Linked DNA regions of Homo sapiens. The protein of the gene in region 2 interacts with the protein of the main gene of each other region in a biochemical or structural test. Each region holds a gene or a part of one and is shown on either strand. Other genes may lie near its edges. The genes, in order: CDK11B, YWHAQ and WWP1.

Evidence for each region.
Region 1: the proteins of YWHAQ (region 2) and CDK11B form a complex in vitro, tested with the Homo sapiens proteins (one study listed by BioGRID).
Region 3: the proteins of YWHAQ (region 2) and WWP1 form a complex in vitro, tested with the Homo sapiens proteins (one large-scale study listed by BioGRID).

What each region holds. Positions count from the first base shown.
Region 1 is NC_000001.11:1,656,765-1,660,521, reverse strand, and holds the start of CDK11B (cyclin-dependent kinase 11B), read left to right. Parts: upstream 1-1,517; 5' UTR 1,518-1,608; exon of another isoform or gene 1,609-2,066; intron 2,067-3,023; 5' UTR 3,024-3,036; coding exon 3,037-3,147; intron 3,148-3,219; exon of another isoform or gene 3,220-3,257; coding exon of another isoform or gene 3,258-3,266; intron 3,267-3,757. UniProt on the Homo sapiens protein: Plays multiple roles in cell cycle progression, cytokinesis and apoptosis. Involved in pre-mRNA splicing in a kinase activity-dependent manner. Isoform 7 may act as a negative regulator of normal cell cycle progression.
Region 2 is NC_000002.12:9,620,841-9,624,497, reverse strand, and holds part of YWHAQ (14-3-3 protein theta), read left to right. Parts: intron 1-3,657. UniProt on the Homo sapiens protein: Adapter protein implicated in the regulation of a large spectrum of both general and specialized signaling pathways. Binds to a large number of partners, usually by recognition of a phosphoserine or phosphothreonine motif.
Region 3 is NC_000008.11:86,464,480-86,466,864, forward strand, and holds part of WWP1 (NEDD4-like E3 ubiquitin-protein ligase WWP1), read left to right. Parts: intron 1-2,314; coding exon 2,315-2,385. UniProt on the Homo sapiens protein: E3 ubiquitin-protein ligase which accepts ubiquitin from an E2 ubiquitin-conjugating enzyme in the form of a thioester and then directly transfers the ubiquitin to targeted substrates.

The DNA.
Region 1 (3,757 bases), on a different chromosome or scaffold from region 2:
CAGCACTTTGGGAGGCAGAGGCAGGCTGATCACGAGGTCAGGAGATTGAGACCATCCTGGCTAACACGGTAAAACCCCGTCTCTACCCAAAATAAAAAAAAAATTAGCCGGGCATGGTGGCAGGCGCCTGTAGTCACAGGTACTCAGGAGCCTAATGCGGGCGAATGGAGTGGAGGCGGGAGAATGGCGTGAACCCGGGTGGCGGAGCTTCCAGTGACCCGAGATCGCGCCACTGCACTCCAGCCTGGGCAACAGAGCGAGACTCCGTCTCAAAAAAATAAAAATAAAAAAAGAGCTTGGGTACACAAAGCAAGCAGCATTTCATTCCGGGATGAAAAAAATTCCGATACCCATCGCCCTTCTTGGGCCCTTGTCAGTTTCTTGCCACATCTTTCATTTTCCCATTTCAGGCCCAGTAAATGCGGATGTTTATCTTCCATTGTTTGTTTCCTGAGATTCAGATGTCTAAAGCATTTTTCTGTGACTTTTCAAGTCAAGAGGAAAACCTGACATATGGAAAGGGAATTAATTGCTCGTTTTATCCTCTTCTCCTGCAATGCTCTGAATCCATGGGTTTGGAGTGGGGCCCTGGGAGTTGGGGGAAGCACCATACCCAGTGAGTCTGCACTTTGAGGACCCACTGCCAGTGTCAGCTTCAAAATCACATTGTAAAAGGCCGGGCGCGGTGGCTCACGCCTGTAATCCCAGCACTTTAGGAGGACGAAGCGGGCGGATCACTTGAGGTCAGGAGTTCGAGACCAGCCTGGCCAATATGGCGAAACCTCGTCTCTACCAAAAATATAAAAATTAGCCGGGCGTGGTGGCGCGGGCCTGTGGTTCCAGCTACTCGGGAGGCTGAGGCAGGAAAATTCCTTGAACCCGGGAGGAGGCTGCAGTGAGCCAAGACCACGCCACTGCACTCCAACCTGGGCGGCAGAGCAAGGCTCCGACTCAAAAGTAAATACATGAATAAATAAAATAAAATCACATCGTAAGAGCTCTCCCTGCCCTGTTTCTGAGTAAGGTTCAGAGTTAAATTCCGAGATCGGCCTTTACAAGACACACAGACCTGAGGCGCCTCACGAGGTAACCAGCAGGTAAATGGAGCGCGCTCCACCCACCCGCCACTAGGGGTCCCAGCGGTCAAGGGGGTGGAATGCGGGCGTCCATCGCGAAGGCATTCTGCTCGCAAGCCTTGGCACAGGCGCGGGCTTCGCTACCGGAAAAGTCCCGGTAGGATTCCGGAAGCCGGCCACGCGTTCCGCGCAGGCGCAAACTGCTCCAAAAGTGGGCGTCGCTCCTCCGGAGTCCCGATTCCTGCGTCACAGCCCGCGCCGAAGTCGGAAGTGCGCTCACCGGGCTGTTTCTTCTGGCGTCCTGGACCTGAGCAAGCGCTGTTTTATGCGTTATCATCCCGCGCAGACACAGGAAGTGCCGCACAGAGCGAGCCCCTGTCGTTGTCTCGAGTTCTGGGCCGGAGGTCGGCTATTATATCATCATTACGCGCCAATACAGGAAGTGACGATACTTTTGGCGCGCGCCGGTTGCTGTTTCTTCTCTGGCTCCGGGACCGGCGGCGGCGGCGGCGGCAGCGGCGGCGGCGTAGGGGTGAGTTCCGACTGGGCGGACCAGGTGTGGGAGCGCGAGGAGAACTGCGCACCGAGGTCTTTCTTCCGAGCAGGCCTCGGAGCGGGGCGGACCCGGGCCCGGGGGCGAGCGACACCCTCGCTTCCGCGGACAGTCTCATCCCGCACGGAACTTTGGGTGGTGGAGGCGGCGGGTCCAAACGCTGTCTGGAGCCAACGTCTGCCAGGCTGAACCTCAAGTGTGCGGGACTGAACCCGAGGAAATAGCCCAGTGCCCGGGTCAGGTGGCCTTGTTCGCGAGCACATCTCGGAGCATCTCCCCGGTCTCAAGGTGCAGCTGTCCAGTGTGCTAGTGGCTTCACGTAGTCCAAGCGGTCTTTCTAGCAGATTCTGACAGTAAAAGCAGTGTTTGATGAGTGGCAGGTCCTGAGTTAAGAGCCTTTAAACGGATGATCTTTAATCCGCGATCGATACTATCACGTAGGTGTTGTTATTCTGGTTGTACGGAAGACTAAACTGAGGTGAATTACGTTACCCAAGACCATACAAGAATGACAGAAACGAGACTTGATTTCAAGCGGTCATTTTTCAGAACCCATCACTCTTTTTTGTCGCCCATGCTGCAGCGCAGTGGCTGTTCACAAGCGCACTTCAGCCTGGAACTCCTGGGCTCAATCGGTCTCCCATCTCAGCTTGCAGAGTATATGGGACTACAGGCGCTCGCCACCTTGCCTGGCTTACAACTTATCATTCTTGTTTTTTTTTCTTTTTTTTTTGAGACGGGGTCTTGCTGGAGTGCAGTGACGCGACCTCGGCTCACCGGAACCTCCGCCTTTCGGATTCAAGCGATTCTGCTGCCTCGGCCTCCCGAGTAGCTGGGATTACAGGCACCCGCCACCACGCCCAGCTAAGTTTTGTATTTTTAGTGGAGACAGGGTTTTCGCCGTGTTGGCCAGGCTGGTCTTGACCTCCTGACCTTGTGATCCACCCGCCTCAGCCTAGAGCTTACTTTTTTTTTTTTTTTTTTTTTTTTAACCAAGTCTTACTTTGTTATCTAGGCTGGAGTGCAGTGGCGCAGTCTTGGCTCATTGCAGCCTTGACCTCTCTGATTCAAGTGATCCTCCTGCCTCTAGCAGCCTCCTTCCTGTAGCTAGGAATACAGGCACGCGCCACCACACTGGGCTAACTTTTGTATTTTTTGTAGAGACGAGGTTTTGCCATGTTGCCCGGGCTGGTGTTGAACTCCGGAACTCCAGCGATCTGCTCGCCTCGGCCTCCCAAAGTGCTAGGGTTACCGTCTTGAGCCACTGCGCCGGGCACAACTTCTTATTCTTAATGAGGATTTATTCTGAATCCCTCAAAAGTGACTAGGTTCAAGTGTTCAGCACCATAGCTTGCTGTGTCCTGATGTAGGCTGAATTATTTTTCTTTTTGCAGTGTTTTAACTCAAATGGGTGATGAAAAGGACTCTTGGAAAGTGAAAACTTTAGATGAAATTCTTCAGGAAAAGAAACGAAGGAAGGAACAAGAGGAGAAAGCAGAGATAAAACGCTTAAAAAATGTAAGCCATATTTTTTAAGTAAGTGGTTTTCTTAAAGGAGATTTAATTTCTTTGCCCTCATTTTTCCATTAGAACAACGCTTCTTCGGTGAAGTTCTTTTGTACTTCCAAATGTCGCAGGTGAGCCCAAAATCTATTCTAAAAATTAACAAAAACATTCAAATATTCAGTTGACATTAAAGGCAGATTTAACACACTAAAGCTGTGTCTAGATTGAGCATACATGGAGAATAAAATACGTTGAATGTTAAGTCATTAGCAAAACTGGACTAATTTTTCTCGGTTCATTAGTATGTTCATAATACTATCTCTAAGTATTTTTAATATAGTGGGAACTTGCCTTGAAATTAATATAAATATTTTACATCTTTCTTGGTTTGCATGGTAATGTACTCAGGAAACCTTTTTAGTAATTTGGTAAGAGGCATTGGCAAAGTACCTCTTTTGCTAAGATCTTTAGCAGCATCATTTGGGATGTTAGTGAGTACAGGCATACCTTGTTGTATTGCACTTCACTTTATTATGCTTCACAGATATTGAAATTTTTCCAAATTAAAGGTTTGTAGCAACTCTGCATTGAGCATTTTTCCAATAGCATGTGCTCACTTTGT
Region 2 (3,657 bases):
GCCTTGGATTAGTCCATAAATAAAATGAGCTGTATTAAGTTGTATTGGATTGTGTCATGCTGTCCTTTGGCTTCTTCCTAACGTGTTGATATCTTACCTGAACCTCTTGTCTAGCTAGACTTGTCATTTTTCCCCTTGTCATTATTGTGTGTATGCTGTTCAAACTCTACAGTTCACCTTACTGAAACTTATTCAGTGGGTCCTATTTTTTGTTTGGTTTGATTTGATTTGTTTTTATTTTTGAGACAGAGTCTGGCTCTGTGGCCTAGGCTGGAGTGCAGTTGCGCCATCTGGGCTCACTGCAACCTCCACCTCCCGGGCTCGAGCCATCCTCCCACCTCAGCATCCGGAGTAGCTGGGACTACAGGCACTTGCCACTATGCCTGGCTAATTTTTGTATTTTTTGTAGAGATGAAGTTTTGCCATGTTGCCCAGGCTGGTCTTGAACTCCTGAGCTCAAGCAATCCACCCAGAGTGCTGAGATTACAGGCGTGAACCACTGTGTCTGGCCGGGTCCTATATTTTCAAAGTGCCACTTCTTCATAGTTGTCTCCAAAGCCCTGAGCTCTTTTAAAGACTTCGCACAGACTGCAATTATATTGAAATCTATTAGATGCAGTGAAAATTGATGAACGGCAAATCTCCTCCCCTCCTTCATAGTAGCTTGGCATATGTGGTTCAGACTTTTTAAATTTAATTTTATTTATTTATTTATTTATTTTGTTGAGACAGAGTTTTGCTCTTGTTGCCCAGGCTAGAGTGCAGTGGCGCAATCTTGGTTCACCTCAACCTCTGCCTCCGGGTTCAAGCAATTCTCCTGTGTCAGCCTCACAAGTAGTTGGGATTACAGGCATGCACCACCACACCCGGCTAATTTTGTATTTTTAGTAGAGACGAGGTTTCTCCGTGTTGGTCAGGTTGGTCTCAAACTCCCGACCTCAGGTGATCCTCCCGCCTCGGCTTCCCAAAGTGCTGGGATTATAGGCGTGAGCCACTGCACCCGGCCGTGGTTCAGACTTTTAATGCAGTGGTGAACACTGTCAACAATTTTTCTCCAAACAACCCCTGGGAAGAAGATCGTTGTTGCATGCTTTATGCTAGGATTTACTTAAGTTCTCGAAGTGGAATTTCCAAATCAAAAGATGTGCGGTTTTTTCCAGATAGCCTTCTGAAAAGGTATGTGTATACACTGTCATCAGCAGTGGTTGAGAAGGTCATTCATTTCCCCTAACCCTTTCCAGCACAAGCAAGTTTTTAAGGCTAACAAAAATCTGGTGACCAGAAGGTTTAACGTCTTATCTCCTTGTTCAGTATTGGATGTATGAGGACCACCTCCCTTCTCACAAAGGACTGCTTAAGAAAACTAGTATTTTTAAGTCTCATGTAGTTTCATTTAGAACATGATACCATAGCATGGGATTAGTTCAGTCAAGGTGTTGCTTTGGCAGTTGGGAAATCTGGTTGGCTATGGTAATGTTCTCTATTTTTATCATTAAGACCAGTTTTTGTATTTAACACTAATCCTTTCCAAATGGCAACAGAAAACGTATCTGAATTCATACCACTGACTTTCTGGATATCAGGGAGGTGGTAGAGAGACATCATTTAAAAGATGTGAAGAGAAGCAAAGTTTATCCATTGCTACTTTAATTAAACTCTTAATCCATAGATAAGTCAGTGATAAATATGATAAATTACTAGATTTGAAACTATTGTTTGCATATTGAGTATTTAAAGACAAAATGATGATAATACCTAGGACTTCAGAGTAATTGGGGGAATACAGATGAAACAGGAGTGTCTATGAATTAATATAGTTGCAGCTGGCTTTAATTGGAATTCATTGTACTATTCTTTGTTCTCCTGTGTACCTTTAAAATTCCCTATTATAAGTTTTTCCTCCCCTAGAAATTCCACTCTTAGGTGTTTACGCAAGAGGGAATGATGCATGGGGCCAAGGCGCATAGGTACAAAAATGTTAATAACAGCTTTATTCTAAGAGCAGAAAACTAGAAATAATCCACTAGTAGGAAAATTGATAAACACTGATGTATTCATAAATGGAATACTATTCAGCATTAAAATGAATGGACCACTGATACTACAATATGATTGAATTTCAAAAACATGCTAGGTGAAAGAAACTTTGCATGAAAAAGTACATAGTGTATGTGATTCCATTTATATGAAATTTTAGAACAAACACAACCTGTTTATGGTAGGAAAAAAAATCAGGAATAATGGCCTCTGTGGGAGAATAGGCAGAGATTGGGAAGGGGCAGGCTTCTGGGATAATTGTATTTTTTTTTTTTTTTAATACTTTAAGTTCTGGGATACAAGTGCAGGACGTGCAGGTTTCTTTCATAGGTATACATGTGCCATGGTGGTTTGCTGCACCCATCAGCCCGTCATCTACATTAGGTATTTCTCCAATGCTATTCCTCCCCTAGCCCCCGACGCCCTGACAGTCCCCGCTGTGTGATGTTCCCCTCCTTGTGTCCATGTGTTCTCATTGTTCAACTCCCACTTGTAAGTGAAAACATGCGGTGCTTGGTTTTCTGTTCCTGTGTTAGTTTGCTGAGAATGATGGTTTCCAGCTTCATCTATGTCCTTGCAAAGGACATGAACTCATCCTTTTTATGGTTGCATAGTATTCCATGGTGTATATATGCCACATTTTCTTGATCCAGTTTATCGTTGATGGGCATTTGGGTTGGTTCCAAGTCTTTGCTATTGTGAATAGTGCTGCAATAAACGTATGTGTGCATGTGTCTTTATAGTAGAATGGATAATTGTATTCTTTAGTTGATATGGGTTTGGGTTTTATACATTTGTCAAAACTCAGCAAATGTACACCCAAGATTTGTGCATTTTGTATGTAAATTTTGCTTTGAAAAAAAACTAGTGATATGCCTGTACTTATGTCTTCAGCTTGTAACTGCTAGAAATGTATGGGTATCTGAAAAAGCAAGTATGGCAAAAGGTTAATGGTAAGATCCAGGTGGTGGATATGTGGGGGTGTTCACTGTAATTGTTGGTTGCCATGTATTGGGGGTTATGATATTTCACATCACTGGTTGAGTGTCTTTAATACATATAGCAAGAAGATAGTGTGTAGCCTGTGTCTTGTTATCCTCAAGATACGAGAATGTATAGAACGGTATTGATCCCCACTTAGGAGACATCACTGGCACCATCACTTTTTTGTTTGGGTGATGAGTGCTAAGTAGATTGATGGAGTTACCAGATGCTGTGTAAGACGTCTTAATTGGCCATACTCTGGGACAGTGGTTCACAAATTTGATCTCAGGACCCCTTTTTAGAAAATAAAATAACTTTAACAAAAAATTGAATGAGAATAGCGGCATTGCATTTCATTCAACCTATTGTAGTATTCCACCTCCTGTAGCTTCTGGAAAACTCCACTTGTGAGAAAATGACAGTGGAAAAAAAGCAAATATCTTAGACTTATGAAAGTGGTTTTACTTTGTCTCCTCTCCACCCCACAAAGGATATAGGGGAGACCTCTAGGGGTTCCCAGACTATACTTTGCCCTATGAGAATTTAATTACTGAAGTTAATAGTAGAACTGCTGTTCTACGAGAATTTTATTACTGTGTTTGGGTGATTGAGCAGTTTATTTTCTGAGTAGTCATC
Region 3 (2,385 bases), on a different chromosome or scaffold from region 2:
ATAATTCATATAAATAAAAGCTCTTTGCAGTTGGAAATCCATTTTTTTTTTCCCAAGATAGAGTCTTGCTGTGTTACCTATGTTAGAGTGCAGTGGCACAGACACAACTCACTGCAGCCTCAACCTCCTGGGTTCAAGCAATCCTCCTGCCATAGCCTCCTCAGTAGCTGGGACCACCAGTGCACGCCACTATGCCTGGCTAATTTTTTAATTTTTTGTAGGGACAAAGTTTTGCTGTGTTGTCCCAGGTGGGTCTTAAACTCTGGGCTCAAGCTGTCCTGCCTTGGCCTCTGAAAGTGCTGGGATTATAGGCATGAGCCACTGCTCCCAGCCAAGGTTGACAGTATTTTTAAGAGTGAAAAGGAGTCCTGTGACCAAAATTTGAAGACCTCTGCCTTCAATAAAAGTGATAGATCCATATGTATACACACATGCGCGCGCGTGTGTGTGTGTATTGAGAGAGAGATTTTTGAGTCAAAGGGAGAATTAAAATAGATTTCAAATTTTGTGAAAGGAAAGTAATTACCACCCACTGATTTCTGTTTTCTCAAAGTATAAGGAGAAGTCACTGGCTAAGAGTGAAGAAAGGAAAAACTTTTGAGAGAAAGAAGGAATTGGGAGAATTGTTAGAGAATAGGCAAGTATTCATTAGAGGAACACGGCTAAGATTGCTAGGCAAAATTGGATTGCTCACTTGGATTAGAGCATGAAACAAGTTGACAGCAAAGAGCATAAGCTTCCTTTCCCCACCACAGCCCCCTCCCCACCCATAGCAACTCGAAAGCAGCAAAAGTTTTTGAAGAGTGGCATAAACTGGTATGTCTTTTTAGCAAAAAGTAAAAAAGAAACAAAACAAATAGACCCAAAGAATTCTCTGATGGTCCAGGTAAGAGATGATGGGGAAGCATATACAAAGGGATGTAGTGGCAGTAGAAATGATGAGGAGGAGCCTGGGCAACATGACAAAACTTCGTCTCTACAAAAAAAAATACAAAAGTTAGCTGGCCATGGTGGCATGCGCCTGTACTCCCAGCCACTCCAGGGACTGAGGTGGGAGGAGGGAGGATTGCTTCAGCCTGGGAGGTCGAGGTCGCAGTGAGCCGAGACAGTAGCCTAGGCGACACAGCCAGACCCTGTCTCCAAATAAATAATCAGGAGAAAAAATGGAATATTTGGTAGATAGAATGACAGAATTTGGCAAAGGCTATATGTGAAAGATGTAAGAGAACAGAAAGTGACTGGTTGTCTTGTATAGGAAGTATTAAAAAATAATTTTTTTTTCTGACCTTGTTATCATACTCTACCTTGAAGTATAAAGGGGAGGGCAGTATATGGTCTGCTTAGTTGCTGCTATTAATATCTTTAACTTCATTTAAAATACAAAGAATACAGTCTTAGAACAGCACTGTTTTATTTAGATGCCTTGTTTCAAAGGCTCTTTCCTGACTCTGACATGGGAGGGTCAAGGGCACATGGAAAGTGGTGACAGTGGTAAGAAGGCACCTGGATAATCTCTAGAAACCTTCCACATGGGAAAATGAAGGTACAGAAGGGTTCTGACTTACTCAGGGCTATCTCACTAGTCACTGCTACTGTAGGGACCAAAACCCTGAACACCCGAATCCTAATCTAGCTACTCAGTGCTGTACCTCACAAAACGAAATGTTATTCCACCTTTGTAAACTGAAAAATAATAGTTATTTTAAGCATTTTTTAGTATTTTAAAATTTTTATCAGTTAATACCAGAATGGAATTGAGTATGGCAAGATTGAAAAAGTGTCATTTTAGAAGAGTTTATATATGTGGTTAGATTATTTGAAAAGACAAAGAAACATATATATTTGTTAATTGACTGTCTCTACCCCAGAATGTAAATTCCATGAAGACAGGGATTTTAGTTTTCTTCACTGTATCACTAGCTTATCAGTTATATAAAAAATTCTCGGTAAATGACTGATGAATGAGTGACTGAGTGGATGAAAGAAATGGACTCTTATCCTAAGAGAAGTTAAGAGGACTCATGACACATGTAACAGGAATAGTAAAAAGAAAATGGATTTTTTTTTTTTTTTAAATTTGTCTTTATCCATATTGCTACACTTATTATTTGTAATTCCATTTTCCTCTTGGAGATGTTAAAATAGTTTTTATATGTAAGTCTTAAATTTAGATTACTCTAAATACTTCTGGCAAAATTTTAACATATATAGTATACATATATCCATTCAGCATTTCTATGTGCTTTGAAAAGTATTCTATTAGATTTTTTTCATTTTATTGAAAACATCTGATTTTGTTTTTGTTTCTGTTCAGTTTTAATCGCTTGGATCTACCACCATATAAGAGTTATGAACAACTAAAGGAAAAACTTCTTTTTGCAATAG